Homo sapiens: one gene and its partners. The protein of the gene in region 1 purifies or fractionates together with the protein of each later gene. This does not show direct contact. Each region holds a gene or a part of one and is shown on either strand. Other genes may lie near its edges.

Region 1 (4,553 bases):
TTTTTATTGTAGCCTTTCTAACATGGGTGCCATGCTATCTTATTGTGGTTTTAGCTCGTGGATCCCAGGTGGGAAATGATGTTGAGCAGCTTTTCATGTGCTTTGTCGTTCATATTATTGCCTTGTGGAAGTTTTGTGTTCAAATCTTTTGCCCATTTGAAAACAGAGTTTTCTTATTGCTGAGTTTTGAAAATTCTTTAAATATTCTGGATACAAGTATATGACTTGAAAATATTTTATTTCAGTCTGTGGCTTATATTTTCATTCTCTTAATGGTGTCAATTGAAGGGAAATTTTTAAATGCTTAAAGTCACATTTATTCTTCTTTTTTCGGAAATAATGTTTTTGGGATCTATCAAAGAAGACATTGCTTAACAGAAGATCACAAAGATATTCTCTGGAGGGAGACTCAGAGGCGGACAGATGGCGGCAGCAGCTGCACGGGCGGGAGGGGGGCGGTAGCGCAGGCGGTGGTGGGGTTGGCGGGGGTTCCAGCTGCGGGACAGGCAGTGGCCGTAGCGGCATGTGGATAAGTCGAAGATAAGTGATATGCCTGGAAAAACGGACAAGTGGGATGGATCAGCTGTGAAAAACTCTGGATGATTCTGCCAAAAAGATACTTCTGGAAAAATACAAATACGTGGAGAATTTTTGTCTAATTGACGGTCACCTCACCATCTGTACAATCTCCTGTTGCTTTGCCATAGTGGCTGTGATTTGGGATTATATGCATCCCTTTCCAGAGTCCAAGCCCGTTTTGGCTTTGTGATGATGGGAATTCTGACTATTTAGACCTCATCTAAGGAGAAGACCATCTTTCTCGTGGCCCACAGAAAAGAGCCTACAGGAGTGGATTCTGATGCTATTTGGGAGCTGCCCTCCAGTCTTAAAAGGTTTGATGGCAGATACACCCTGAAGCTGACCTTCATCAGCAGGAGAACAAAGCAGCAGCGGGAAGCCAAGTTCACCAAGTCTATGGCTGAATTTTTCTGACCCCAGTGGGAGACTGGTCATGGATGCATGAGCCTGAAATGTCCAGGCTCCCTGACACTCTCCCCATGGGAAGAAACATCAAATAGCCCTCTTTCTGCTGGATCTTGCTGAATTACTGCCCTGGGGGGTAGGGGAGATAAAAATAACTTAAAATGGGTAAAGTAAGAACTGTTAAAAAGTCCATGTTTTGTCCTGAAATTTTACTCTATTCTGGATACATAGGATTTTCTGACACAGATATGAGAAGTTGTAGCTCTGAGGTCAAGCTGTGGCCACCTCGGTATGCTGTTTGCATTATTTTAATTTGCTTTTCTGCAAAAGCATTTTTGCTAAAAGCTGTACAGACTTTTCCCTTTGTACTTATCAATACTTTATACTATAGCTTTGTGCCATGCAGCATTTTAAGATTCAATTTTAAAAAATTATTAATGTGTTGCTGTCTCTATCAATTCATATTTCCATATGTGTTTCCTTGAAGAATTCAGGACACAACTCCTTCCGTATGACAGCTTTCCTTCACACACTATTTTTGTGGGTATGTATATATCTCACTTGGGGAAAACTTTAAAAACACACTTGAAAAAACATAGCTTTTTAATTTGTTTGAAACAGACCTTCTGCCTGTTACGTTTTGTGCTCTTAACCAATTTAAGAGGACAACTGTATATTTAGTATTAAAAAAACATATTCTGTGAGTTTTCTAGGGAGGTTAAACTTTCCTCTCTAAATATGAGGTCTCTGATGGATTGTGCACTGCTTTCTAGGTGGGACTGAGCTGTGTGTGTGTGTTTGGCATGTGGTTATGCAGCTGCTGCAGCACACTCATTACACACCCTTCCATGTCTCCCCATTGCCTCACCTTGGCACCTTCCATTTAAGCCAAACACCAGAAATATAAAGAAGGGCTTGTTTCTGGAGTTTCCAGTTTGTTCCATTCATCGAGTCAGGGTGTCTTCTATGGACAACGCTGTCTGCAGCCCTGGGCCCTCTCGAAGGGGAGGCGATGGACTGTAGGTCTGTGGAGCTCAGCACAGGGCTGTGCCACGGACGCGGGTGTCAGTGAAGTCACGTGCATTTTCAGATGGAATTCTCCTCCCCGATGTGAACAATGAACCGACGGTGTTATTTTCATAGGATTGTCCTGGAGCCCACGGAGACGCGGGCTTGGGATCCAACGTGATGCTGAGCGGATCTTCTCTGCTTCAGACCAGGCCTCATGTGGCTTCACACAAGGGTGACTGTAAATCGTCATCTACACCGAGATGCTGCAGAGAGACCGAGGGGACTCACAATTGCACCCCGGCAGCAGGTGTGCATGTGGACGATTGCAGGCAGAGAAAATCCTGTGAGCCTGTGTGCCACATGGAGTGAGGGAACGTTGGTGGGTGAGTCTGGGCGGGGCAGGCTGGGGGCCCAATCGGTTTCCACTGAGTGTCTCCATATCTTTGCTGGAAGTGCAGGGAAGGGGCAAGGCTTGGACGCCAGCGTCGCTGTTCCTCCAGGCTGGCTGATCCCTTTTCATTTCCAAGTCTCAAGAGCCTGTTCCCTGAAGTCCTGGGGAAGTGTGGTGAGGCGGCCCTGCCCCAACAGGGAAGGAGAAGACACCTGTAACCTCCAGAAGCTGGCCGCCTCACAAAGCCTTCTCAGATGGATTCCCCCACAGCCTAGTACAGTGGCTCATGCCTGTAATCGCCCTGCTATGGGAGGCTGAGGCCAGAGGCTTGCTTGAGACCAGAAGTTCCAAACCAGCACGGGCAACAGAGTGAGACCCCATCTCTTAAGAAATAAGAAATAAATTGGCTGGGTGTGGTGGCACACGCCTGTAGTTTCAGCTACTCGGGAGGCTGAGGTGGGAAGATCGCTTGAGCCCAGGAGGTGGAGGCTGCAGTGAGCCATTATCCCACCACTATAATCCATGCTGGGTGACAGAGTGAGATCCCATCTCCAAAAAATAAATAACAACCCAGTAGAAACCGCTGGAAGCTGACCCCAGAGCAGGAACAGAAATATGTGGCCCTAAAGCCGGTAGCCACACAGGGCTTTTCCCGTGAAGGACGGACACAGAGTCCATGTATCCATGTAACAAACACACACCATTCACACACATATACATGACCACACACCACACACAAAACCACACCAACACATACGTGCACATGTGACCACAAACACATCTCTATTCCCATCTGTCTCCTACACACAGTCTTTCCTAAGCATTTTATTTTAAAACCACAGCACACAGCTTCTGCCATGGCTACCAATTTCCCTCCATCCTTTATCACGGCACTGTCCCTCACTGCATGTTCTGGGCACTTCAGAGCCTGCCCTGGGCATCTGCCCATCACCGCAGCCTGATGGTGGCACTGCAGTGCTGAGGGCTCCCACTTTGGTACCCGTCTGTCTCTCTCACCCACAGCTGGGAAGCATTCCTGCCTCTCACTCCATCTCTCTTCTGTGCTCCACCCACCATCATTCCCATGTGAGCAGCACCCTTGGACACAGAGTGCTTCCCTTTTGAATACTACCTTAACCTCAGCTTGGGGGACCTCAGACCACACATTCTGCACATGGCCCTGTCCTCGGGGACAGCGCCAGTGATTGCAACTTACCTGTGCCATCGAGCCCCCGTCTGGGTGTACACGAGTGGAGAACTGACACAGGCGCCTGCAAATCAGCCGGGAGTTCCTGGCCTTGGCTCTGGTGGGGCAAACAGAAGGAAAGAAACACACCACAGTTTTGTAGGGCGCTCAGGATGGCACTGGAGGCTACAGTGTGTCCTGTAAGCACCACTGCAGTGGGGCCCATGTGTCTCAGAAACTGGAGACCAGCAGCTCCCGGGAGGTTGTGTGAGTGCTCCCGGGTTACTGCACAGTGGGAAACAGAAGGAGCTTCTCGTGTAAAGGACCAGGACTCCTTCCCACTTGGATTCTGTAAAGCAGTACCTCCCTGAAGTCTGCGAGCCCCACCCTAGACCAGTGCCTTAGACAGGTAGTGTCCTCCGTTAGTGTAGCTGGTCTACACTGGGCTACAAGGTGACTGTAATTTTATAAAACAGCACATCATACATGTCACAGGGGTGTCAGGTGGGTCAGGTGACCTTCATTTTTACCTGGAAATCCTTGCCATTCCCTAATTTTCTACAACATATACATGTCGATTTGGCAATCATTACACAACTTTAGTTTTTCCTTTTGTTTTGGTTTTAGAGAGAAAGTTTGTAATTCCGGTTATAGTTACATTTCTATTAATCTTGCCCAAAATGCATCACAGAGAAAGCATTTTTGTATTTTACTTAAAAGACCATAGTTACATGATAGTTTGAAGTGATATTCAAGTGCTTCGGATCTACACAGTAGTTTTGCCAATTACCCTTCTAAGAAAAGCAATTTCATAGAAGACTTAATGGGTCGTTTGAAAGGGAATGAACTTTTCCCAGTAAGCCATACACCTTGACTGCTGAACTAAGCAAAAGTCTGCATGAATTCTCTGCAGTTGTGATCATTACCAACAGGGCCTTGTCCTGATCTAAGAAGCCCTTTGCCCTCTGGCTGTGGAGTAAG
Region 2 (4,553 bases), on another chromosome or scaffold:
AAAGTAGTTGGCAAACTTCAATTTCACAGGAATGCCTAAATGCCCAAAATCAAATAATTACTAAAAATGTGGGCAAGCTGGAGGGTGGAGGCCTTTGGTGAGCAGGCTCCCTGCTGGCCCTTGCCTCAAACGCTCTTCCAGGCTCTCACTAATTCATTAACTAGCCCTCTTCGGTTTGAGTCATCCCCCACTTATGAATCCTCTTAATTGTATCATTCTGTCCATGAAGTTTTATCTACAAGAACTTATGACAGACTTCACCAAATGCCTTGCCAAAATTTAGATATTATATTCATAGCATTCTCTGATAAATCCTGACAACTGTACCCAAGATGTTAACAAGTTTATCCTGGATTGGCTTACCAGACAGCATTTAAGTGATACGCATTTATAGCTAATAAAACACCGTTTATATTTATCATCTCATTATAACTCAGAGAACTCTGCTGACTTCTAGAAAACTAACATAAACATAATGCATATGTAAAACATTCAGGTAACAGAAAAATTTATTTGAAATTGAAAATTTGCATAGACTTGCAATAATTCGAGATTTAAAAATATAGAGTATTTATGTAACACATCAAATTGTTTCAAAGTCTGTCACAGGGGGCAAAATGGGGACTGGACTTGGGCTCCAACATGATGGGACCCCAGGGAGGCCACCATCTGGGGCTGCAGACAAACCTCTACTGTTTTTTTTTTTTTTTTTTTGAGATGGAGTCTCGCTCTGTCGCCCAGGCAGGAGTGCAGTGGTGCGATCTCGGCTCACTGCAACCTCCACCTCCAGGGTTCAAGTGATTCTCCTGCCTCAGCCTCCTGAGTAGCTGGGATTACAGGAGCATGCCACCACGCCTGGCTAATTTTTGTATATTTAGTAGAGACAGGGTTTTGCCATGCTGGACAGGCTGGTTTCGAACTCCTGACCTCGTGATCTGCTCGCCTCAGCCTCCCAAAGTGCTGGGATTACAGCGTGAGCCACCGTGCCCGGCCATACCGCTACTCTTAACTCAGACACTGCAGAATTCCCAGCTCACCAGGAGGCATCTTTTTATTTTTTTATTTTTTTGGAGACAGAATCTCCCTCGGTCACCCAGGCTGGAGTGCAGTGGCACAATATTGGCTCACTGCAACCTTCGCCTCCCCGGTACAAGTAATTCTCCTGTCTCAGCCTCCAGAGTAGCTGGAAATACAGGCACACGCCACCACACCCAGCTAATTTTTGTATTTTTAGTAGAGACAGGGTTTCACCATGTTGCCCAGGCTGGTCTCAAACTCCTGACCTCAGGTGATCTGCCCGCCTCGGCCTCCCAAAGTGCTGGGATTACAGGTGGGAGCCACTGAGCCCAGCCAGGCAGTATCTTTATAAAGCAGTGGGGGAAACCCTGGGCAGCTGGGATCTTCAACCTCTGTGTCATCTCTGTTTCAATGTCTAAAAACCGAATCTCATAACAATCTAATAATAATAAGAGCACAGTACTATCATCTCCAGGTACCATTTCCCTATCCTTCCTACCCACTGCTGCTAGAGGACAGCATTACATTCAAAAGGAATTTCATTTATTTGGCACAGTCAGAAATATGGCTCAGAAATCTGCTCTTAAAATTGTAATTAACGGCCGCCCGGGAGGCAGCGGCTGGAGGAGCGGACGGGCCCCGCGGGGCCCGAGGGCAAGGAGCAGCCGCCTGCCTTGGCCTCCCAAAGTGCCGAGATTGCAGCCTCTGCCCGGCCGCCACCCCGTCTGGGAAGTGAGGAGTGTCTCTGCCTGGCCGCCCATCGTCTGGGATGTGAGGAGCCCCTCTGCCTGGCTGCCCAGTCTGGAAAGTGAGGAGCGTCTCCGCCCGGCCGCCATCCCATCTAGGAAGTGAGGAGCGCCTCTTCCCAGCCGCCATCACATCTAGGAAGTGAGGAGCGTCTCTGCCCGGCCGCCCATCGTCTGAGATGTGGGGAGCGCCTCTGCCCCGCCGCCCCATCTGGGATGTGAGGAGCGCCTCTGCCCGGCCGAGACCCCGTCTGGGAGGTGAGGAGCGTCTCTGCCCGGCCACCCCGTCTGAGAAGTGAGGAGACCCTCTGCCTGGCAACCACCCCGTCTGAGAAGTGAGGAGCCCCTCCGCCCGGCAGCTGCCCCGTCTGAGAAGTGAGGAGCCTCTCTGCCCGGCAGCCACCCCATCTGGGAAGTGAGGAGCGTCTCCGCCCGGCAGCCACCCCGTCCGGGAGGGAGGTGGGGGGGGGTCAGCCCCCCGCCCGGCCAGCCGCCCCATCCGGGAGGGAGGTGGGCGGTCAGCCCCCCCGCCCGGCCAGCCGTGCCGTCCGGGAGGGAGGTGGGGGGGTCAGCCCCCCGCCTGGCCAGCCGTGCCGTCCGGGAGGGAGGTGGGGGGGTCAGCCCCCCGCCCGGCCAGCCCCCCCGTCCGGGAGGTGAGGGGCGCCTCTGCCCAGCCACCCCTACTGGGAAGTGAGGAGCCCCTCAGCCCGGCCAGCCACCCCGTCCGGGAGGGAGGTGGGGGGGTCGGCCCCCCGCCCGGCCAGCCGCCCCGTCCGGGAGGGAGGTGGGGGGGTCGGCCCCCCGCCCGGCCAGCCGCCCCGTCCGGGAGGGAGGTGGGGGGGGATCAGCCCCCCCGCCCGGCCAGCCGCCCCGTCCGGGAGGTGAGGGGCGCCTCTGCCCGGCCGCCCCTACTGGGAAGTGAGGAGCCCCTCTGCCCGGCCAGCCGCCATCCGGGAGGGAGGTGGGGGGGTCAGCCCCCCGCCCGGCCAGCCGCCCCGTCCGGGAGGGAGTGTGGGGGGGGTCAGCCCCCCGGCCCGGCCAGCCGCCCCGGCCGCCCCTACTGGGAAGTGAGGAGCCCCTCTGCCCGGCCACCACCCCGTCTGGGAGGTGTGCCCAACAGCTCATTGAGAACGGGCCAGGATGACAATGGCGGCTTTGTGGAATAGAAAGGCGGGAAAGGTGGGGAAAAGATTGAGAAATCGGATGGTTGCCGTGTCTGTGTAGAAAGAAGTAGACATGGGAGACTTTTCATTTTGTTCTGCACTAAGAAAAATTCCTCTGCCTTGGGATCCTGTTGATCTGTGACCTTACCCCCAACCCTGTGCTCTCTGAAACATGTGCTGTGTCCACTCAGGGTTAAATGGATTAAGGGCGGTGCAAGATGTGCTTTGTTAAACAGATGCTTGAAGGCAGCATGCTCGTTAAGAGTCATCACCACTCCCTAATCTCAAGTAATCAGGGACACAAACACTGCGGAAGGCCGCAGGGTCCTCTGCCTAGGAAAACCAGAGACCTTTGTTCACTTGTTTATCTGCTGACCTTCCCTCCACTGTTGTCCCATGACCCTGCCAAATCCCCCTCTGTGAGAAACACCCAAGAATTATCAATAAAAAAAAAATTAAAAAAAAAAAATTGTAATTAACAACAGGAAGAACTATCTGGGCTGTTCTGGATATAGTCCAGGCTGAGTGTAAGTATAGTCTGCTGGACTTGAGAGTTGGACACCCAGACCCATTTTTCTGGTCTGGGGCCTTAAGAAGGGATGATATCACCAGGAAGCCAGGGAATGAAGGCACTACCCCAAAGAAGGAGGAGATGGGGAGCAAGCATGCTGATGAGTGTAATGAAGGTAGACATTCCTTTGGGACTTCTTGACCTACACTGCCTGTGACTTGAGTATTAACTCTTTAAGTATTTCCTAAGCATATACAGGTTGAGCATCTCTAATCTGAAAATCTGAAATCCAAAATGCTCTAAGATCGGAAACTTTTTACGTGTTGAAATGGTGCCATAAGTGGAAAATTCCACACCTGACCTAATGCAGTCAACACACAGATGCAGTTTATTCAGTGTCCCCAAGGGAAAAATAAGATCACCTTCCGGTTATGTGTATAAGGTATGTATGAAACATAAATGAATTCTGTGTTTAGACTTGGGTTCCATCCCCAAGATGTCTCATTATATATGCAAATATTTAAAAAAAAAAAACCCAAACCTGAAATCTGAAACATGTTTGGTCCCAAGCATTTTGGATAAAGGAAGCTTAACTGCATTAGGTACTTTGGGAGATACAGAGATGCAGAGCTGAGAAAGAAAAAGATCTGCTTCAAAGAGCTTTAAGACCAATGGGAGGACAAAGAACAAGTACACAATAATAACTATAAAAATCTAGCCGGGCGCAGTGGCTCACGCCTGTAATCCCAGCACTTTGGGAGGCCGAGGCGGGCAGATCACCTGAGGTCAGGAGTTTGAGACCAACCTGGCCAACATGGTGAAACCCCGTCTCTACTAAAAAAAATACAAAAATTAGCTGGGCGTGATGGTGGGCACCTGTAATCCCAGCTACTCAGGAGGCTGAGGGAGGAGAATCGCTTGAACCCAAGAGGCGGAGTTTGCAGTGAGCCAAGATAGGGCTGCTGCACTCCAGCCTGAGCAACAGAAGAGACTCTGTCTCAAAAACAACAACACCAACAAAAACCTATAAAAATCACAAAATGTTTAGTGTCCTAAAATTGTTACTAATAAAAGCTGAAATTTGGGCTGGGCACAGTGGCTCATGCCTGTAATCCC
Region 3 (3,875 bases), on another chromosome or scaffold:
ATGAACCACCACACCCTGCCTAAATAATTATACAGAAGCTCTCCAGGATATATTCCTAAATTTTAAAAACACAAAAAACAGGTACAGAGTATGCTAATTTTATTTATATTTTGAGTTTAACAAAGGAAGAAAATGGCTGGGCCTGGTTGTGCATGCCTGTAATCCCAGCACTTTGGGAGGCCAACACAATAGGATCAACTGAGCCCAGGAGTTCAAGACCAGCCTGGGAAACACGGTGAAACCAAGACTCTAGTAAAAAAACAAAAAACTTATCCAGCCATGGTGGTGCATCCTTGTAGTCCTGGCTATTCAGGAGGCTAAGGTGGGAGGATCACCTGAGGCTGGGAGGTTGGGGCTACAGCGAGCCCATGCTGCACTCCAGCATGGACAACAGAAGAGAGACCCTGTCTCAAATAAGTAAATAAATTTTAATGAACATAAATAAAAATGAATTATACATATTAATAGTTATTCCAGTAATTTTATCTCTAGGAATATAGCCTATGAAAATAGTTAAGGATGTTTACCTCAGAGTTTGTTCCGACAGTAGAAAACTCTGAAAACAATCTAAATCTACATGTACATAATGAAGAACAAGTTAAGAAAAAAAAATTTTTTTTTTTGAGACAGGGTCTTACTCTGTCACCCAGGCTGAAGTGCATGCAGTAGGGTGATCTCAGCTCACTGCAGCCTTGACCTCCCAGGCTCAAGCAATCCTCCCACCTCAGCCTCCTGAGTAGGTGGGACTAAAGGCACATGCCACCACACTGGGCTAATTTTTGTATTTTTGTAGAGACAGGGTTTTGCCATGTTGCTCAGGCTTGTCTTAGACTCCTAGCTTCAAATGATTCACTGCCTTAGCCTCCCAAAGTGCTAGGATTACAGATGTGAGCCACTGGACCCAGCCAAAATTGTTGTCTACTTATATAATATCATGCAGACATTAAAAATGATGTAGAAATATATTTGAAGAGAAAGTTGTAAACAATAGTTCAGTGAAAATACTGTATATATGTTATAAAACACCACTGGAAGGGAAAAGTGTGACTAGAAAAGTGTAGAAGATACATATTAAAAATAGTATTTTTGTGCCAGGCGCGGTGGCTCACGCCTGTAATCCCAGCACTTTGGGAGGCCAAGGCAGGCGGATCACGAGGTCAGGAGATCAAGACCATTCTGGCTAACACGGCGAAACCCCGTCTCTACTAAAAATACAAAAAATTAGCCAGGTGTAGTGGCAGGTGCCTGTAGTCCCAGCTACTCAGGAGGCTGAGGCAGGAGAATGGCGTGAACCCGGGAGGCGGAGCTTGCAGTGAGCAGAGATCGTGCCACTGCACTCCAGCATGGGCAACAGAGCCAGACTCTGTCTCAAAAAAAAAAAAAATAGTATTTTATCTGCTGGGTATGGTGGCTCATGCCTGTAATCCCAGCACTTTGGGAGGCCGAGGTGGGCGGATCATGAGGCCAGGAGTTCAAGACCATCCTGGCTAACACGGTGAAACCCTGTCTCTACTAAAAATACAAAAAATTAGCTGGGCGTGGTGGTGGGCACCTGCAGTCCCAGCTACTCGGGAGGCTGAGGCAGAATGGTGTGAACCTGGAAGGCAGAGCTTGCAGTGAGCCGAGATCCCGCCACTGCAGTCCAGCCTGGGCGACAGTGCGAGACTCTGTCTTACAAAAATAAAAATAAAATAAAATAAAAATAGTATTTTATCACTGGATAGTGGTAGTACAAGATTTTTTTCTGTACTTCCCAAATTGTTTTTATAATGAAGTAGTTATTTTGTATAATAATTCATTATATATATATTACTTAAATACAAGTATATATAATTTGTGTTATATATCTGTATTACTACATATATATGTATGTATTGAGTGCTTATTTTGTGCTAGGCACTAGGACAAAATTCTAGGTACAGGGGAAACTGGTAGGAACAATATAAGCAAGATCTCTGCTCTCACAGAATTTACAGAATTTAGGGCCAGGTGTGGTGGCTCAAACGCCTATAATCCCAATACCTTGGGAGGCGAGTCGGGTGGATCACTTGATGTCAGGAGTTCGAAACCAGCCTGGCCAACTTGGTGAATGAAACCCCATCTCTCCTAAAAATACAAAAATTAGCCGGGCGTTGTGGTACACGCCTGTAGTCCCAGCAGGAGGATCTCTTGAACCTGGAAGGCAAAGGTTGCCGTAAGCTGGAATCACACCACTGCACTCCAGCCTGGGCAGTAAGAGTGAGACTCCATCTTAAAAAAAAAAAAAAAAAGAATTTATATAATTTATGTTCCAGGGAAGGCAGTAGAGTGACAATAAACAGATGAATGAATGAACAAAGTAATTTTAGTTAGTGATAAGTTCTATGAAGAAAGTTATAGGATGGTGGTGTTGAAATAACTGGATTAGAGGGTCCAACTTTAGTTACAGGAATCAGGAAAGGCCTCTCTGAGGCAACTTTTGAGCCGAGAGGTGAATGACAGGAAAGAGAAAGCAGGTGAAGACATGGGGGCAGAGCATTACAGCAGAGCAACACTAAGTGCAAAGCTCTGAGATGGAAATGAGGTTGTTAAATCTGACAGAAAAGGGGCTGGTGTGGAGGAAGGAGGTAGGAGGAGAGATGGAAGATGAAGACAGGAGGAGAGATGGAAGATGAAGACAGGGGTCCGATATTGTAGGCCCATAGGCCATGTGCAGGAGTTTGGACTTTATTCTTTTTTTTTTTTTTTTTTTTTCTTGAGATGGAGTCTTACTCTGTCACCCAGGGTGGAGTACAGTGGCGCGATCTTGGCTCACTGCAACTTCCACTTCTCAGGTTCAAGCGATTCTCCTGCCTCAGCCTCCTGAGGAGCTGGGACTACAGGCGTGTGCCACCACCTGCTGCTAATTTTTTGTATTTTTAGTAGACACAAGATTTCACCATGTAGACCAGGCTGGTCTCAAACTCCTGACCTCAAGTGATCTGCCCATCTCAGCCTCCCAAAGTGCTGGGATTAAAAGCATGAGCCACCTAGCCCAGCCTGGACTTTATTCGAATTGTAATGGGAAACCACTGAAGGGTCCTGATATGGTTTGGCTGTCTCCCCACCCAAAATCTCATCTTGAATTGTAGTAATCCCCATGTGTCAAGGGAGGGACCAGGTGAAGTTAACTGAACCATGGGTGTGGTTTCCCCCATACTGTTCTAGTGACAGTGAGTTCTCACAAGATCTGATGGTTTTATAAGGAGATTACCCCTTCATTCGGCTCTCATTCTCTTTCCTGCCACCATGTGAAGGAGGATGTGTTTACTTCCCCTTCTGCCATGATTTTATAAGTTACCTAAGGCCTCCCCAGCCCTGCAGAACTGTGAGTCAATTAAACCTCTTTCCTTTATTAATTACCTAGTCTCAGGTATTTCTTCATAGCAGCAGCACGAGAACAGACTAATACAGCTTACATGCTTAGGAGGTACATTTACATGCTTACAAGCATGTAAATGATGTCATCTGAACTATGCTTCAGAAAGATAACTCTGGCTGCTGTGGAGCCAGGATTTTAGTGGGGCAAGAAGACAAACAGGGAAATCAATAATGAAGCTGCTGCAATAATCCAAACACCTGGACCAGGGTGGGAGTAGAAGAGATGGCTAGAAATGGTCAGCTGCTGAGTGTATTTTGGAAGCAGAGGTGACAGGACTCGCTAATAGACTGGATGTGGGGCAAAGGAGAAGAATTCAGGATGACCCTCAAGTATATGACATGAGCAAAATGGGGACTTTCTTGTTGAGTTTTTTTTTTTTTTTTTTTTTGAGACGGAGTCTTGCTCTGTTGCCCAGGCTGGAGTGCAGTGGCACGGTCTCAGCTTACTGCAACCTCCACCTCCCAAGTTCAAGCAA
Region 4 (4,553 bases), on another chromosome or scaffold:
ACAGCACCTGGCATGCTCTAGGCACCCAGAAACTTGTTGATGGCATGAATGCAAAATGACTGATTTTTAATGCATTCTTAATTTTTAATTTATTTTTTCTTTTAAATGCAGTATGGCCAAAAGAACATCTGTAGAATTCCAGATAACCCAAATAAATGCCTGTCCTTTCTCCATTTCTCCTTTCCAGACACAAGATCCAGAACGAGCTTCGTTTCTCATTTTAGACAAAGACGTCTGCCCCCACCACTCCAATCATAAATCACATTAGATAGTTTTAAACGCTATACACATAACTTTGTTGACATGAGCAAATCTCCATATTTTTTTTAACTTGGTCTCCAGAAGAAATAAGGTTTCATGTTTAAAAAACAAACAAACAAACAAAAACATAGCTTATAGGCATTCCATTAACCAAGTTCCACTCACCACCTTGTCTGCTACTCCCTCAGGATAATCCGTAGCAAGGTTAGCAAGATAATGGAAGGGTTCTCAACGCCTTAGGAAGCAAACCCTCACAGGAAAAAGTCAACAAGTGCACCTCACAAATCACAGTGTGTCCTGGGCATCTGACTTGCATACTGCAAAAAGACCATAACCCTTCCAAACTGCCTAGCCTGGAATCAACAATCTCTAAAATTCCAGAAAAAAATTTTAGAAGCCATTTAGTGAAGGGTGAGGCAAACAACCCGAAAGAAATTGAGGGTCTTGCCCAAGATCCCACAGCTGGTTTGGCTGGCTCCCATGGCTAGTTCCAAACTCCAGAGGAAAAATGCAGAATCCAAGCCATTTCTTGCCAAACACAACACCCTCAGACCTTTCCTGAAGTTATGATTCAGAGCCTGCTGCCCACACTTAGATGATATACATGGGACAGTAAAAATACCGCATTACTACAAAGTAACCATATTCAAAGCCCCAAACAAAAGTTCTCAAATTACAAAGCAAATCAATTTAGGTAATTTGGAAGAGGAGTAGTGTCAAAAAAAAACTCACCACCAACAAATTCAGACTCTATCCACAGTTATTATCAGCTTATTCAGAAGCTAAAGTAATTTGCTGAAAGGTCATCTCTTCAACGTAACCAAATAAAATCCTATACTAATTGCATTACTTACTTATTTAATTGTAGCAAGTACAGGAAGACACCTTTATTCCACCCAGTGTTCATGGCACTTGCTTATATGGGAAAAGTAACAGGGTGAAATACATAAAAAGCTAGATCTTTCAATTGGCCCTCCTGTGCAATTAGGAAAAATAGTTTCCATACTCTCTTCAAAAAGCAAATGGTCTGAAATAAAATTTAAAAAAAATCCTGAGCAATGATTAGAGAAACATATTACAGTCACCGCCCCCCACCGCTCCCCGCGCCTTGCTACCCCGGTGACCTTGGACCTACCTTCTTCAACTTTAGTTTCCTAACCCTACAGTGGAAATAATCATGGTTCATACTTCCAGGGATGATTAAAAGCATATAAAATGCTCAAGCACGGGGCATAGATCACATGTGCTTGGTAAGCGTAGGCTATTATAATTACTATTCCCATTTTATAGATTAAAAGGGTGAGGCCCATTTGCCCAAGGTAAATGCTGTAATGAACTAAGAATTTCAACCCAGGTCTCTGTGGTTTTGGTGTGGATTCTGAATAAGAGATATGTATATCTGAAACTCCCAGAGCCCCAGCGCCACCCAACCCCACTTCCGTAAGATGTTGGGTAACCACCCTTAGCTACCCACAGACAGAGCTAAGCCTCCACACTTACTGAAGAGAAACGCTTCTGGAAAAGTGTCATTTTAAAAACAGGTAGAACTCATTTATAAATAACCACCGCTTTGTAAATAAATCCTTTTGACAATTCTTAAAAAGTTCTCGAGACAACCTTAAAAAGTCAGTAATATTTCCTCACTAATCTGGACTATGCTTTTATGCTTGGTCAATTGCTTATGGCTGTGTCCCCTTATCCAAATCATTCCCAATTAATGAACAGATCTGATTTAAGTGCACTGCAGGATTCATGAGGCAGCAATGCTATGAAAACTCAAATACCTCTTAGATGTATATTGTAACTAGTATGAATTCCTCAAAAGTATATCCACTGCATTATACAACACCCTGCTTCACTCACTTAGAAAGACAGTATCACAGACCCAAAAATAAGACCAGTTGTCCTATTTTCTTACATGGAAGTGTTACATATTCCATGAACTATGCTTTCATTTTTTTCTTTTTTAGTTGCTAGAATTCAGCAGCCAACTGTGTCACTTTGCTACTCCCCAAAAATAGCTAAACTGAGTAGTTTAAAATCACATTTTGTTGTTTGGCCAGAAAAATATCATGCTGATTTCAGTCTGCAAAAAAAAAAAAGAAAAGATTAGAGGGTACGAGGTGTGCATCAGTGTTTGGTTCTCTCTCATATGCTCTGTAGCTCTGAATCCATGAACATATAGAGACAGGACATCAATGTGTTCAAGTGTCACACAAGTGTAAAATAAAAGCAAACACCCAACTACTGTTTGCTTCCCATCAGTGGAGCCAAATTGAATCCCAGTAATGAGTAACCTATTTCCCTCCATTACCACACTGTCCATAAAGCCTGAGAAGAGGAATTAACATCTGAGGGTGCAGGACTAGGCGACTCTTTCTACACAGGGATTTGGAAGACTTATGAGACACATTTTAAGCCCACAGAAAGCATTTTTCCCACTTTAAGCTGAGAAAGCAGAGACCTCCTTTGCAATGTGGGCAAGGTGATATCTCAGACTTCATGAGGACTTTCTCATTTATTTAAACCTCAAAATGTAACCTGTTAGTAATCTTACATAGAATGTCCCCATGCTGATCCCTACTCCTCCTCACCCTCAACAGCAAAGACAGATACAAAAACCCATCACGTATGTTTATACAATTTTTCAAAAAGTTGTCTATACATACAGTTGTCCTTTTCAGTTCCACCGTCCGCTTTCCATACACTCCTATCCAAATCTCTTAAGAACACTTAAAAACGGTGGCCAGGAGCAATGGCTCAGGCCTGTAATCCTAGCACTTTGGGAAGTTGAGGTAGGAGGATCACTTGAGGTCAGGAGTTTAAGACCAGCCTGGGCAACACAGGGAGAGACCCGGTCTCTATAAAAATAAACATATAAAACTTTTGATTTAAAAAAATGGTTATTGAGCACTTACTGTTTACCATGCACAGCACTAAGTCCTTATATACATTCTCATTCAAGCCTCACAAAGACTTTAGGAGTTAGGCTTCTATCACCACCCCATTTCACAGAGGAAGAAAAAAATAATGAGGCACAGAGAGGGTATGTAACTTTTCTAAGGTAGCACGGCTAGCAATGGCACAGGTAGGCTGGCTCCAGAGGCCATATTCTTACCTATTTTGCTATGTTCTGTATAACTCTCAATAGCCACCTAGTTTAGAAAACAAATAGAAAAGCATTAACAAGTTCCAGGCTCCTAAAAGATTTTTCTTCCTGCTACATGCTGACAAAATAGTATGGCAACTCTCATCAACTGGCTGACACATGAAGTTTTCATTCAATGTGTAAGTTACCTCCATCCCCACACCCACCACAAGTACAAGTGAAACACTACCCAATTCCGTTTGGGAGGCTTCCAAAACAGAAACCAGGCACATATAGAAACCTCATCAGCTGTCATTCCTCTTCCTATCCCTGGAAGCACTTAAAACGAATCTTTTTTTTTTTTTTTGAGACGGAGTCTTGCTCTGTCGCACAGGCTGCAGTGCAGTGGTGCAATCTCAACTCACTGCAACCTCTGCCTCCTGGGTTCAAGCAATTCTCCCGCCTCAGCCTCCCGAGTAGCTGGGACTACAGGTGTGCACCACCATGCCCAGCTAATTTTTGTATTTTTAGAAGAGACAGGGTTTCACTATATTGGCCAGGATGGTCTCAATCTCTTGACCTCATGTTCCGTCCGCCTGGGCCTCCCAAAATGCTGGAATTACAGGCATGAGCCACCATGCCAGGCCAAAAAAAAAATTTTTTTTACAGTTGTATTAAGGGCTGCAATCATAAAAACCTTAGGCCTGCATAGATCCAGCAAGCTATCTCACACAGAATATATTTTTCTGTCAAAACACCAAATATCTTGCCACAAATGATACCAGGTGAAATGGTCCCTCCAATTATAGTTGTCCCAATAGAAGGGGACAATCACTCAAGAAGCCCTCTAGCTACTTAAAGCAATCTTGCACAGCCATCACTTATACCTAACAATCCTTTTCATACTGAGTTAACCACAAATTTATCTGTTCTACATCTCAATCATCACAGACTTTCCTGACAGTGAAATTTACCTGTATTACTTTAAGACATCTTTTAAAGAGACATTAACAATCCCATGTTCTTAGAAATTTGCAACAGGCAAATTGTAGGGAAAAGCAAGGAGACGTAAATACAGGTTTCTGGAATATACTTATCCTTTTTATTGATTTTGTTGGTTACAACTCCACATAAACACAATACCAAAAATAAGTCAAAGCCAAGTCCGATAACTCTTTTTTACACAAGTATAGTTGATTTTTTA
Region 5 (4,553 bases), on another chromosome or scaffold:
CACAGCCTGTGGGCAGACGGGAAGGTGAGGGATGGCGCCCTCGAAGACAAACAACGTAGAAAATATTCCACACTGAAATGAAGCAGAAAGCGCAGCCTTCTCTCCTGGCTGAAACAGCATTAAAGCAAGAAAGAACTAAGGGAAACAAAACTGCAACCAACAGCATCAGGGGAAGGACACAGCCACTGGGAGAGGAGCCACTGAACTCCAGCAACAGCCCAGGCCTGAGGAGCTTCCTCCATGGAATTCCGAGTTGGGGAGAACAGCAAGGCTCTCTGCAGGCAGCTCCGCAGGAAGGCATCTGGTGTCCAGGAGAGACACAGAGAGAGCAGGTCTGCACCAGCACGGTGAGGACGGCTGTCTTGGTCTGAGTTTAGAAGAGGAAGCTTGTGTGGACCTGCATGGGAGCGGGCAGGAGGGCATGGTGACAGGGAGACCTGGCGCCTCATACCCTTCTGTGTCACTCCAATTTTGAAGCATGTGATTATAACAGGTTTTTCTTTTTTTTTCCAGACAGAGTCTCACTCTGGCACCAAGGCTCGAGTGCAGTGGCGTGATCTCAGCTCACTGCAGCCTCCACCTATCGGGTTCAAGAGATTCTCTGGCCTCAGCCTCCTGAGTAGCTAGGATTACAGATGCCTGCCACCATGTCTGGCTAATTTTTTGTATTTCTGGTAGAGATGGGGTTTCACCATGTTGTCCAGGCTCGTCTCGAACTCCTGACCTCAAATAATCCGCCTGCCTCGGCCTGCCAAAGTGCTGGGATTACAGGCACGAGCCACCACGCCCGGCAGGTTTTTTTTTTAACTGCATTTTTTTTTAATTTGATTTTTAATTCTTTTGAGACAGGGTCTCGCTCTGTCACCCAGGCTGGAATACAATGGCGTGATCACAGCTCACTGCCACCTCAGACTCCTAGGCTCAGGTGATCCTCCCACCTCAGCCTCCCAAATAGTAGCTGGGACGACAGGCACGTGCAACCACACCCGGCTCATTTTTTTGCAGCATTACATTTTAAAATAAAAAAAACCCTGCTATCCAAGGAATTCTTGAAGAATCAAGTAGAGTAAATAAATAAATAAATAAATGGAATAAGGCCCCCGCCCCAGGTCCAGAGCCACCTTGTGGAGAGGGCGCCTCACCCAGGCCGGCGTAGGTCCTCCGCTTGCTCAGGCTGGCCGACTTCACCAAGAACATGCACGACTGGTGCGTCATCCATGAGCAGAAGACCAAGAGCAGCGCCCCCAGGACGATGCCGCACTGCAGGGTGGAGACAGGAACACATGTTCACAGCAGCAGGTGCTCCCCAGAGGCCCTCACCCCACACACGCGGCTCATGAGGACCCTCTTCACCCCCAGGCCCCGCTCCATCCCAGTCTCCTGCCGAACGCGACACTTCCTAGCACTGAAAGGGCCATTTCCTTGCTGTGGTGGCCGCGCGCCTTGTCCAGGGATGAAGCTGTATGCGCAGAGCACAGGGGTGCCATCTCCTTCCCAGTCCCCACCTCAAGTCTTCATGGACAGCGGGGTGCTGCCAACTAATACCCCCTTGTTCTCTGCACACACCCTACATGCACCATCTTTAGCCACTTAAGTCCACAGCTACAAGTAATGAACACATTCTGGAAGAGATTAAAAATGCCATTTTCCCCGTTCTCATAAGTTAAATAGACACTTACTGTGTGACCTGGGGATTAACTGCACCCCTAGGTATTCACTTACCAAGAGGAATGAAAACGTGTTCATGAAAAACCTGTATGCCAATGTTTACAGCAGGTTTATCCACAACCCAAAAATGGAAAAACAACCCAAATGTCCTTCAACAAGCGAATGGATACAAACTGTGGTCCATTCGAATAAGGGAATATTAGTCAGCAGGAAAAAGGGATGACTACTGACACCCACCATGACACGGATGGGACTCAAACGCACCATGCTGAGCAGAGGAAGCTGGACTCTGAATGCTACAAACAGTGTCATTCTGTTTACAGGAAACTCAGAAAAGGCAAACTTTTAGGCCAGGGAACAGCTCAGTGTTGCCAGGGGCTGGGGGTGTGGAGATTTGGCTGATGACAAAGGGGCACATGGGGACCCTCTGGGGGATGAAGCTGTGTGTTCTGTTTGACTGTGGTGGTTACACAGCAAGCCCATGACCTGCACCCTAAAAAGAGTCAATCAGCCGGGCACGGTGGCTCACACCTGTAATCCCAGCACTTTGGGAGGCCGAGGTGGGCAGATCACGAGGTCAGGAGATCGAGACCCTCCTGGCCAACATGGTGAAATCCCATCTCTACTAAAAATACAAAAATTAGCTGAGCATGGTGGTGTGTGCCTGTAATCCCAGCTACTTGGGAGGCTGAGGCAGGAGAATCACTTGAACCAGGGAGTCAGAGGTTGCAGTTGAGCCGAGATTGCGCCACTGCACTCCAGCCTGGCGACCGAGCAAGACTCCGCCTCGAGAAAATAAAAAGAGAGTGAATCTTCCTGCATGTCCACTACCTCCATCGAGGTGACACTTAAAACACAAGGACCGCCACACTAGTGCGAGACGTCAGTCACGTGAACCTAGCTGGACGGTGAGGGGGGCGGGGGCGCTGCACTTTCCAGTCTGTTGTTCTGTAGACTTAAAACTGCTCAAACACATAAGTCCGGCTGGGCACACTGGCTCACAACTGTCATCCCAGCACTTTGGGAGGCCGAGGCAGGTGGATCATTTGAGGTCAGGAGTTCGAGACCAGCCTGGCCAACATGGTGAGACCCCCACCTCTACTGAAAACACACACAAAAAATTAGCCAGGCTTGGTGGTGGGCGCCTGTAATCCCAGTTACTTAGGAGGCTGAGGCAGGAGACTTGCTTGAATCTGGGAGGTGGAGGTTGCAGTGAGCTGAGATTGAACCATTGCACCCCAGCCTGGGTGACAGAGTAAGACTCCATCTCAAAAAAAAAAAAAAAAAGTAAGTCTATTAATACCAAAAACTCATGAGATATCACCAAGCACTCATCAGAATGGCTCCAGCGGAAAAGACACGATACCCAATGCTACCGGGGATGCGGGCCGGCATGTGCACCACTGCACCCACATGGCAGCTCCAGAGCGGAGCACACGCACCCTGGGGCCCGGCCACTCCACACAGGCACGCACCCAGCAGAAACCACCCCCTGCCAACGCCTGTCCAACTCCTCAGGGCATCACAAGAGCTCCCAATAGGAGACACCGTAAATGCCTCACAGGGGTAAACTACACACAGACACGCATGGCGGTGCAGCGGACACCAGAACGCAAGCCAGACACTCGCACTAGACACCTGCACAGCAGGACCCACCCACCTCAGTTCAAACCAGGCAGCACCACCGTGGCACACTAGGGGTCAGCAGTGTGCCCCGGGTAGGCCGCCACGGCCACAGAGTACGCTCCTTAATTTGGGAGCTAGTCACACGGGTTTGCTCGTCATATGAAAATTCATCAACAGCACATCTAAAGAAGTGTGTACACATTTTTGTATGTCAAACTTCAATGTTTATTATATATATAATCTATATAGATCTATATCTATATCTATCTAGATATAGATATAGATATATATTTTTGTTTGTTTGAGACAGAGTCTCACTCTGTTGCCCAGGCTGGAGTGCAGTGGCGCGATCTTGGCTCACTGCAAGCTCCACTCCCGGGTTCAAGCGATTCTCTTGCCTCAGACTCCCTAGTAGCTGGGACTACAGGCGCCTGACATCGCGCACAGCTAATTTCTGTATTTTTAGTAGAGATGGGGTTTTATCATCTTGGCCAGGCTGGTCTTGAACTCCTGACCTCGTGATCCACCCTCCTCAGCCTCCAAAAGTGCTGGGATTACAGGCGTGAGCCAACACGCCCAGCTATGTATATATATAAATATATCAAAACTACTAAAACAAAAAAAAAAACACTAATCCAAAGTTTTTCAATGCCAAGGCTGCCAAACACTAAACACACACATCCCCAAATCGCCTGCTGGCGTCTCCCTGCGCCCCAGTCCAAGAAGGCTGCCGTGGAGGAGACGCTGCGGCCAGATCAGAGCAACTGGGCCTCCCTCTGGGCAGCCCTCAGGACTCAGAAGGACGTCTCTAGTCCTTCACTTCCTGACAGGTCTGTGCAGATGCCCGGCTAATCAGCACATGCTCTGGCAGGGGCCTAATGTCCACCACATGGCAGGTGGTCCAAGGCTCGAGATAGCTGGATCGTCTGGGCCCTAAGATGTACTTTCACAGGTGTCTAAACCAGAGCCCCTTCCACGGTGGCACTTCACCGACAGGCATCAAAGATGACAGCATTTGGGGCCAGGCACGGTGGCTCACGCCTGTAATCCTAGCACTTTGGGAGGCCGAGGTGGGTGGATCACCTGAGATCAGGAGTTCGAGACCAGCCTGACCAACATGGGGAAACCCTGTCTCTACTAAATACAAATAAATAAATAAATAAATAAATAAATTAGCCGGCGTGGTGGCACATGCCTGTAATCCCAGCTACTTGGGAGGCTGAGGCAGGAGAATCACTCGAACCCTGGAGGCAGAGGTT
Region 6 (4,553 bases), on another chromosome or scaffold:
TTGTTCCAGACTGTGCTCCTGGACCCAAAATGAAAGCTGTCAGGCTCCAGGCTCAGGGCTCTTCTTACTCAGGCACAAGGCCTCTGGGGAGCTCCTCTGCTGGGGCTCTGAGTGGGGCTCGGCCCTCTACACCTCCTGAGTGCACCACACCTGGGAGAGCCTGTGGAGGACATGGCTATGGCGGGGCGGGGGTGCTTCTGCCTGGGAGAGGCGCCATGTCACTCTTGGGCCCTTAGAGCTCAGCACTTTGTCACAGCCACACGCCTGGAAGCCCCAGCCTGAGTATTCAAGCCAGGCGGCCCCACCTGCTTTGGTCACTGCACGGGGTGTGAGCCTGCACCACCTCTGTCTGGGGCCTCTGTGCCTGGCTTTGTGCGAGGCGCCCTCCCCCTTCCACCTGGTTGCATCTTCACAGCGACTCTGAGGTGGGGGTGGTGTTCAGGGAGGTGTCGCACTCGGCCTGAGGCACAGCCTGTAAGAACCATTGCCAGGATTCAAGTCTGTATCTGATGCCAAACTCTGTGTGTGGGTGCCATGAGGAGGGGTGGTTCTCCTCTGACCCACGGGTGCTGGCAAGTGGGGGTGCCAGCTTCTGGGGTATTTGACCTCAGCAGACACGCTTCTCACAGTGCCCACCTGTGGGAAGGGTAAGGATGATGGCCATAGGAAATCATGTTTGAACCACAGAAATATTCCAGTTCATTCTAATAACTCTGCTCTTCCTCAGAAATGACTGCTGAGTACGCCTGCACAAGGAAACAGTTTAACAAGAGGCTCAGTGAATTTGGATTGATTCAGGTACCAATGGTTGAGTACTGTATTTGTGCATTTCACTGTGTGACATGAACGGTGTGTTCTTTTGATGTCTCTGTACTGGTGACTTCTGTGGTGATTTGGGAAGAAGACTAGTTAAGGCTTTATTTGACACGGGTCACTGGGCTTGCTTCTCTTGGGCATTGAGGCTTCTGACTTAATTACTTTCTCTCCTGTTTCACAGATTTGGCTCTCAGCACATGCAAATTGTTTCTTGTGTTTTTTCTGAACACTCCAGGAGAAATTTGCACTGATGGCTCAGAAGGCTTACGTCATGGAGAGTATGACCTACCTCACAGCAGGGATGCTGGACCAACCTGGCTTTCCCGACTGCTCCATCGAGGCAGCCATGGTGAAGGTAACCCTGGCATAGCCAGAGAGCTGGCGCTGGAGGGAGGCTTGGGAAATCTCCCTCACTGTGACCTTTCAAGCCCATGCTGTTGCCTGTCATCTTCCTCCTGTCATTGATCCAGTATTTATGATGCACTTGCCCTGTGTAGCACTCCAGGGATAGGCAGGCAGCGGGGAGCAGCAGTAGGGAAGTGTCCAGTGGGCCAGTGGATCAGTAGTTTATAGCAGAAGGAGACCGTTATGATAATATCCTTTTAGAGTAATAACATTGCATCTGGCTTGTGTGAGAAAGACTTCTTTTTTCCTTAGTTTATGGCCTTCCTACTTTCTGGTATCAAAACTTTATCTTAAAAACTAAGCATATGGCAGGGCGCGGTGGCTCACACCTGTAATCCCAGCACTTTGGGGGGCCGAGGTGGATGGATCACCTGAGGTCTGGAGTTCGAGACCAGCCTGGCCAACATGGTAAAACCCCATCTCTACTAAAAACACAAAAAATTAGCCGGGCATAGTGGCGGGCACCTGTAACCCCAGCTACTTGGGAAGCTGAGGCAAGAGAATCACTTGAACCCGGTGGGGGCGGAGGTTGCAGTGAGCCGAGGTTGTGCCATTGCACACCAGCCTAGGCAACAAGAGCAAAACTCCATCTCAAAAAAAAACAAAAAACAAAAAACATGTATGAGCCTGGGCAACATGGCGAAACCCCATCTCTACAAAAAATACAAAAATTAGCTGGCATGGTGGCACACGCCTATAGTCCCTGCTACCTGGGAGGCTGAGGTGGGAAGAGCATCTTATTTGGTTAAGGTAGATACTAGAATTTGCTTTTGTTTTGTTGAGGGTGGAGGGTGTCATTTTTTAGCTGTAATAAAAAAGATGGCCACACTTGGGGGGACCCTACTTTGTGCCCCCCACAATTGTTTTTAAGCTGGTCTCTGGAATTGAGCTCTTGAGAGAAATAGTGAGAGGTATGGCAGCTTACAGAAGCAAACATCCTGGTGTCGGCAGGAGAGTCTACCTAAAAGGTTGGGATCCTGAAGTGGCAAGGTCCCTAAAAAAATAAAAAATTAAAAACAAAAAGGCTGGGCATCTTGGACCGTGTTTGAGTCTTTTCTAGGTGCAGTCTGTGTACTGGGTGCATTTGCATGTGTTTTATCATCTCGTTTTCTTGTCACCCTTGAACAGTGACCACAGACATTAGTTTGCTGTAGGCCAGCCTCTTCCAGATGCTAAGCCTAGGGCTAAACATGGCAGTATGTTTGCCCCCAAGGCACTTATAGTGTGCACAGACAGAAAGAAATCACGGCCGCTGGGGCTTGGCAGGAACAGGTCAGGTTTTCTCGGGAAGGGGAGATCTTAGGTGGGTTTTAAAGGAACAGGAGCTCAGCCAGGTGCAGATAGGGTGAAGGCAGGCCCAGAGGTACAGAAGGTCATGGTGGGGTAGGGAACACAAGCTGGCCAGTGTGGTCACGGAAGGCAAAGGACTTGACCACATCACCCCTCAAGTTCCTCCCTGGCCGATCTCCTCCCCAAGCCCGTGTGCCTCCCATGCCTCCCCAGCCACCCAGCTCCCTGCAGCGTAGGTCCTCCTTTTGGAAAGGATTCAGTGTGACACCCCACAGGTGTTCAGCTCCGAGGCCGCCTGGCAGTGTGTGAGTGAGGCGCTGCAGATCCTCGGGGGCTTGGGCTACACAAGGGACTATCCGTACGAGCGCATACTGCGTGACACCCGCATCCTCCTCATCTTCGAGGTGAGTGGCCCCGCCACCAGCTAAGCTGTGCTCCACCCCCACCCTGCCTGGTCCTAAAGATGCTGCTCAGGGCCTCGCAGAGGCCCCCGCAGCCCAGGGCTGGGTCGCATGCTCTCAGGGGCTCTCCTAGCCCTGGCACGTCTCCTTCCCGACTGCTGCCCTCCATGAAGTCACAAGCCTGAGGAGTCAGTTCAGTTAGCATGTGCCAGGTGGCAGGGGAGGGAACTGGGGCCACAGAGATGACTTCGGATGCTGTGTTCTGATTGTGCAGCAGGGCCGACCAAGGGAGATGACAGAGTGTAAAGAGGCAGGGAGCGGGCATCCTCCAGAGGCAGCCAGAGTTTTGTGAAGCATGCGCTCCTGGCCCCTAGGGGCAGAAAGAAAGGGCTTCAACCAGGGCCGGGTGGAGGGCAGTTTGTCCCTAAGGGCAGGGTAATAGAGCGCGCCAGGCCCAGATGGGACTGATCTGCTGGCACAAGGTGAATGAAGAGAGAGTGAAGGGCTTTCTGGGAGCAGCAGTCAGCCCTGCTAGGTGGGCTGGGGCAGGCAGTGGGTTTGGGGGTGTTGAAGAAGGTATATGGGAAGGCTAAAAAAGTAGCCAGACTGTGGAGGACCTTGATTGACAGCAGAGGAATTTGGAAGCCACAAAACGTCTTTAAGCAGGGCATTATTTGGTTGTATCTGTGTTGTGGGAAATGCCCCCAGGGGCTCAGCAAGTGCTGGACATGTGGACGGGGCTCATGTGGAGAGTGAGTTGCAGGGATGAGGCCGGAGACCAGGGGCTCTCCTGCTGGGAGGGAGGGGCTGGACCTAAGAGAGCACAGCAGGATGAGTGGGATATGATGGTGGGCATGGGTATACAGGAGGCAGGCCTGAGACAGGGAGAGGGTTTGGGCCTGAGCAGCAGGTCTGGTGATGAGAGGCATCATCAGCCTCTGGGAGTGTAGTCTTGTCTCCTGGGCCGTCCTGCCCAGTGGGAGGCCTCCTTGGCTGCTTTTGTTCCTGGCCTACCCATTGGGTTCCAGCCATCTCCACTGTTGCAGTGGACATACGGGGCAAGGGCCAGCCTGAGGGCACTGGAGTGGTCTCAGCCCTGCAAAGGGTCTTCTCCAAAGGCCCTTCCCTTAGCCTGGGAGGGTTGGGGTTCTCCAGGGCTGGGGTGGTCAGCAGGGTTCAGGAAGCCCTCAAGGCCTTGGAAGAACACAGGGCTCTCGATGTAGGGTGAGAGCTCCTGTCTGGAGCCTGCTCGGAGCTGGGTGGTCCTGCCAGGAGGCCCCTGCAGTCCCCCCTTTTCCTGTAGGGAGTCCTGCTGTCCGTGATGTCAGCCTGACTGCAGGGGACAGTCCTCAGTCCCTAGTGCTGGCTGTGTAGCCTGGGTCAGGCCCCTGCACCTGACACACAGTACCATTGTGCAGAGTGGGCAGAAGCCCACTGGCCTCTCACTGATCAGAATCATGGGTTGGGGGAGTGGGGAGCATGTGGCCCTCTGGGTGTGTTGACACCTGGCACTGAGGAGGTTCTAGCTGCCACTCAGCAATTTCTGGCTTCCGTGAGGAATCTGGCCTCCACCTGGAGCCAGCAATGTCTGTCTGGCACTGGCTGAGCCCCAGGCATCAGCACCCCTCACCACCCGGGGAA
Region 7 (4,553 bases), on another chromosome or scaffold:
GTCATTTTCAGTCAGGCATGCAGGCCTTCCATGTCATGTCCTTGCAAGGCCTCTCCCCATTCACTCCTTTAACCAGTGCCAATTGGCATGAAGAACTTCCTTACTTCTGGGAGTTTGGGAGCTTTCTTTCTGTTCCCTCCACAAGGAATTCCCTGTCATGTTACCCTTTTCCATTATCTGAACTGCTTAAAATCCTGACCTGTTTTCAAATGCCACATCGTTTACTCAGTTTTTCTGTTCTCTGCAACTGGACACAGTTTTCCATTTCTGGGCCTCTTCACACCATTTTATCTGCATTTCCCTTCTTTCTTTCTTTCTTTTTTTTTTTTTTTGAGAAGGAGTCTCGCTCTGTCTCCCAGGCTGGAGTGCAGTGGGGCGATCTTGGCTCACTGCAAGCTCCACCTCCCGGGTTCACGCCATTCTCCTGCCTCAGCCTCCCGAGTAGCTAGGACTCCAGGCGCCTGCCACCACGCCCGGCTTATTTTTTGTATTTTTAGTAGAGAGGGGTTTCACAGTGTTAGCCAGGATGGTCTCGATCTCCTGACCTCGTGATGCCTGCCTCGGCCTCCCAAAGTGCTGGGATTACAGGTGTGAGCCACGGCGCCTGGCCCCTCTACACCCCGGCCTTTTTTTTAATTTTTATTTTTAGAGACAGGGTCTCACTCTGTCACCCAGGCTGGAGTGGAGTGGTGTGATCATGGCTCACTGCAGCCTTGAACTCTTGGCCTCAAGCAATCCTCCCACCTCAGTCTCCTGAGTAGCTAGGACTACATGTGGATGCTACCATGATTGGCAATTTTTTTTTTTTTGGTCTCGCTATGTTGCCCAGGCTGCTCTCAAACTACTGGGGTCAAGAGATCTTACCATTTTGGCCTCCCAAAGTGCTGGGGTCACAGGCTTGAGCCACCATATCCAGCCCTCAAATGCTGATGAGCACATTTAGTTCTTTGGAATGCTGCTTTCTGCCTCCCCAGATTTTAACTTCTTTGAGGACACGAACTAAGTCATATTTTTCTGTTTTATATGACTCTTCATGCCCTGTTTTATACATAGTATTTGCTCAACAAATATTTGTTGAATGAATCAACTTAATACAATGAAAGGCAGCTGTCATTTTCTCAATTGCCCTTTCCTGTAACTTAACCACAGTATTTGCTCCAGGCTGGGATCTGGAAACCAAGAATATACTCAGTCGGGATTAAAAAAAGATTTACAAAAACAATTTTACTAAGGGACTATGAAACTGTAGTGTTAAAAATAGAGTGCCATTTTTTGGCCACGGTGTTCATACCTGCCTGATTCCAAACAAGCTTTTAGAAAGGCAATGTTTAGCTGGTAATGGGGACCAGATGTTACCATTTGGAGGCAAACATAATTAACTTGAATACTGTAAGGAGAGCAGAACCGTCACCAGATTAATGCCCTTTCTCTAATGCAGACTCGGCTGGGGCACAGTTTCTGTATTCATAGACTTAGTGATGCCCTGTCCCCATTTAGCCAACATATCCATGGTGCAAAGTGAGACTGTTATTCCTTCCATATAGCTGCCTCATTAAAAAAAAAAAAATGAAGAGGCAACTTGATTTACCTTTGACTGAAAACTATGTGACTCACTTTTAACAATAATTTGCAGAAAAATTACATTAACAATTAATTCAAGGTTTGAATGAGATGCTAGCGTTTAACTCTGTCCCTTCATAGCAGGCTGGTACAGGTCAGCCCGGTGCAGGTCAAACCCTTTGGAAATAGTGTTGCCAGATTTAGCAAATAAACAACAAAACAAGAAACAAGATGCCCAGTGAAATTAGAATTCAGAGAAATAATGAATAATTTTTTAGTACACATATGTCTCAAATATTGCATGGGACATACTTATTCTGAAAAATTATGTCTTGTTTGTCTGCGTCAAATTTAACTGGACATTTTGTATTTCACTTGGCAGCCTTGTTTGGAAAGCTTAAGACCACTTCAGGATGGAAGGGAGAAATGAGTTTTGTAATGGAGGATTGAGGTCGTTATTTTCAGTGATATTATTTTACAGTAAATCTCTGTACTCAGCTTTAATGGAAAAACTGAGGTATACTGGTAAATCAAATATCCAGTTAACCAATTTCCAACGAATGAGAAAGTAATAACTGCATTCGATGGGAGACCCTGAATGAGCATAATTTAATCTCTCCTTGATGACTCAGAAAGTACCTCTGGATATTATGGTGTCTGAGATCATCACTGTGAATTCTGATTGACTTAGGAGCACATGAATATGTGTTGAAGCGCTGGGTAACAGACTTCTGGTTAATAACAGAAGATAGCAGAGTTCAGAGTGTGTTAAGCAGCCATTGCCCAACGTGATTTCCATCTCTGCCAAAATGATGAAGCCTACTTTGTCAAAATAATGAAAATGCCCTTCATCAATCACCTATAAAGCAGAATGGTTTGTTCCAATCTTATTTTCTTTATATCTCTATATGGTGACAAACTCTGAATTTTCCAGGATTACTATATTTCTTTTTTCTTTCTTTTTTTTTTTTTTGAGATGGAATCTTGCTCTGTTGCCCAGGCTGGAGTGCAGTGGCCAGTGGCACAATCTCGGCTCACTGCAAGCTCTGCCTCCTGGGTTCACGCCATTCTCCTGCCTCAGCCTTCTGAGTAGCTGGGACTACAAGTGCATGCCACCACACCTGGGTAATTTTTTGTATTTTTAGTAGAGATGGGGTTTCACTGTGTTAGCCAGGATGGTCTCAATCTCCTGACCTCGTGATCCACCTGCCTCGGCCTCCCAAAGTGCTGGGATTACAGGAGTGAGCCACTGCGCCCAGTCCAGGATTACTATATTTCTAAAAAATAATTTCTGAATCAAAAAATTAGGGTAAAACTTGGGGCTTTAGTGGCTTTGGAAGCCAAGTGATGTGTTCAAGCAGTAACCTTTCATTAGGTAGGCTTAAACAAAATCCAGATTGAATTGTGACTACTCAGCAGGGTGAAAATTTGAGGTCCAGCCGCTTGTTTCTCAGAAGGCGTGCATAAAACTGCACTTCCTTCATTCAAAAGTAACCACCAAGCATTTGTTATGTTCCAGGCATACAGGACACAACAGAAAATGAGGCAAACAGGTCCCCTGCTCTCCTGGACCATCTAGTCCAGCAGGAATACTGTAGTCCTCCTTTCATTAATCTCTACTCAAGGGGACCTTTGATTTTCATTTCAAGAAAATGAAAATTATCTGCTTCTGATAATCAAGAAGAAAAACTTGAAATTACTGTCTTATTAGAGGCTCTGCTTGCTGGGGCATATGCTAGGTTCAATATATTGAGTGCCATGTACTATTTTAGTCTAACGGGTACCATTTAGTGAGCACTTAGTTTAAGCCAGGGGTGTTCCAAATTTCCTCTCATTGACTCCTCATTATAGTTGCATTAAGGTGATCCTCACAGACCAGAAAACGGAGATCAGAGTGAGTCTCAATGTCTTATCCATGGTCCGTCATGCATACACTAAGTGGACAGTCCACAGTCAAGCCTGGATATGTCTGCCTGCCTTCTGTCCATGTGACTATCGTAACGTGTTAGCCTCTCCAAAAACCTGCTTCTGGCAATTATTTGGAGACTAGAGACATTTTACTAGAGAGAAAATATTTAAAAGTATAGTGGAGACCATGATTAAGAGACTAGCACTAGGAACTGAAAGGAAGCACCTTATTTGAAAAATAGCTACTTAATTATGTATGAAAATATTAGGATATGCTATTTTAGACATCTAAGTTTACATAACTAGATCATTTAACTATTTTTAAAAATTGAACAAATTATTTACCTTCTTTGCTCACATTCCTAGCATCACCTCTCAGGGAAATCCTTGTGAAAATTAAAAAGGACAGTTTAGGTATAAAAAAAATTGTATTCAACTAAAAGGATGTGACATAAATCTCTAAGAGCCTGGAAATTCAGAATTTTGACTAACATGTTTGGAGTCTTTATGAAGTTTACCTCATTTTTTTTAAATACAATGACATGAGATAAGGTTGAAGAAATGGGCCAGAAATTTCCACCCAAACCTCAAATGGCCTTGTTTCTACAAATTTATGAATAACAGCACAAATCTGTAATGCTCTGAAAATGACCTAGAACTTTCTGTCATCTAACTGCTGATCAAAAATAAAGCCAAGGTTATATCTAACTTTTCAATGTCCTTTCTTCTTTCAAACCCTTCTCCACCCAATTCCTGCCTCTAAGGCCTTGAACTTTCTAAATCTTAGGTCCTAAAATAATAAACAAGTCTGTCTGTGGGATGGAAATAAATAAACTTTTCATTAAAAAATCAGATGTTGGTTTTTACTTTCCAAGCTGAACTCTACTATAAACAAGTATAGTTTTTCCTGTTCATTAGCTCTTCTCAAAATTGCTTGTAATTTCATGGAATATTGCCAAAGTGATTTTTTTTCCTTCCAAAGTCGGTATCATTCTCCTCTAAAAATAATTAAACTAAAGAGGATAAACAGAAAAATGGAATAAAAAATTAAATACCCCAAATACATATATAACATAATATTAAAG

The links.
Region 2: the proteins of ZDHHC11 (region 1) and THADA purify together in Homo sapiens (co-immunoprecipitation; one large-scale study listed by IntAct). This does not show direct contact.
Region 3: the proteins of ZDHHC11 (region 1) and NDUFAF1 purify together in Homo sapiens (co-immunoprecipitation; one large-scale study listed by IntAct). This does not show direct contact.
Region 4: the proteins of ZDHHC11 (region 1) and PTPRG purify together in Homo sapiens (co-immunoprecipitation; one large-scale study listed by IntAct). This does not show direct contact.
Region 5: the proteins of ZDHHC11 (region 1) and SLC38A10 purify together in Homo sapiens (co-immunoprecipitation; one large-scale study listed by IntAct). This does not show direct contact.
Region 6: the proteins of ZDHHC11 (region 1) and ACAD9 purify together in Homo sapiens (co-immunoprecipitation; one large-scale study listed by IntAct). This does not show direct contact.
Region 7: the proteins of ZDHHC11 (region 1) and NRP1 purify together in Homo sapiens (co-immunoprecipitation; one large-scale study listed by IntAct). This does not show direct contact.

What each region holds. Positions count from the first base shown.
Region 1 is NC_000005.10:815,923-820,475, forward strand, and holds part of ZDHHC11 (palmitoyltransferase ZDHHC11), read right to left. Parts: intron 3,691-4,553; coding exon 3,603-3,690; intron 1,370-3,602; exon of another isoform or gene 405-1,369; intron 1-404. UniProt on the Homo sapiens protein: Endoplasmic reticulum-localized palmitoyltransferase that could catalyze the addition of palmitate onto various protein substrates and be involved in a variety of cellular processes.
Region 2 is NC_000002.12:43,295,224-43,299,776, forward strand, and holds part of THADA (tRNA (32-2'-O)-methyltransferase regulator THADA), read right to left. Parts: intron 1-4,553. UniProt on the Homo sapiens protein: Together with methyltransferase FTSJ1, methylates the 2'-O-ribose of nucleotides at position 32 of the anticodon loop of substrate tRNAs.
Region 3 is NC_000015.10:41,389,355-41,393,229, forward strand, and holds part of NDUFAF1 (complex I intermediate-associated protein 30, mitochondrial precursor), read right to left. Parts: intron 1-3,875. UniProt on the Homo sapiens protein: As part of the MCIA complex, involved in the assembly of the mitochondrial complex I.
Region 4 is NC_000003.12:61,568,071-61,572,623, reverse strand, and holds part of PTPRG (receptor-type tyrosine-protein phosphatase gamma isoform 1 precursor), read right to left. Parts: intron 1-4,553.
Region 5 is NC_000017.11:81,288,549-81,293,101, forward strand, and holds part of SLC38A10 (solute carrier family 38 member 10), read right to left. Parts: intron 1,261-4,553; coding exon 1,143-1,260; coding exon of another isoform or gene 1,122-1,142; intron 1-1,121. UniProt on the Homo sapiens protein: Facilitates bidirectional transport of amino acids. May act as a glutamate sensor that regulates glutamate-glutamine cycle and mTOR signaling in the brain. The transport mechanism remains to be elucidated.
Region 6 is NC_000003.12:128,903,335-128,907,887, forward strand, and holds part of ACAD9 (complex I assembly factor ACAD9, mitochondrial), read left to right. Parts: intron 1-727; coding exon 728-798; intron 799-1,051; coding exon 1,052-1,171; intron 1,172-2,786; coding exon 2,787-2,915; intron 2,916-4,553. UniProt on the Homo sapiens protein: As part of the MCIA complex, primarily participates in the assembly of the mitochondrial complex I and therefore plays a role in oxidative phosphorylation.
Region 7 is NC_000010.11:33,215,824-33,220,376, forward strand, and holds part of NRP1 (neuropilin-1 isoform a precursor), read right to left. Parts: intron 1-4,553. UniProt on the Homo sapiens protein: Cell-surface receptor involved in the development of the cardiovascular system, in angiogenesis, in the formation of certain neuronal circuits and in organogenesis outside the nervous system. Mediates the chemorepulsant activity of semaphorins.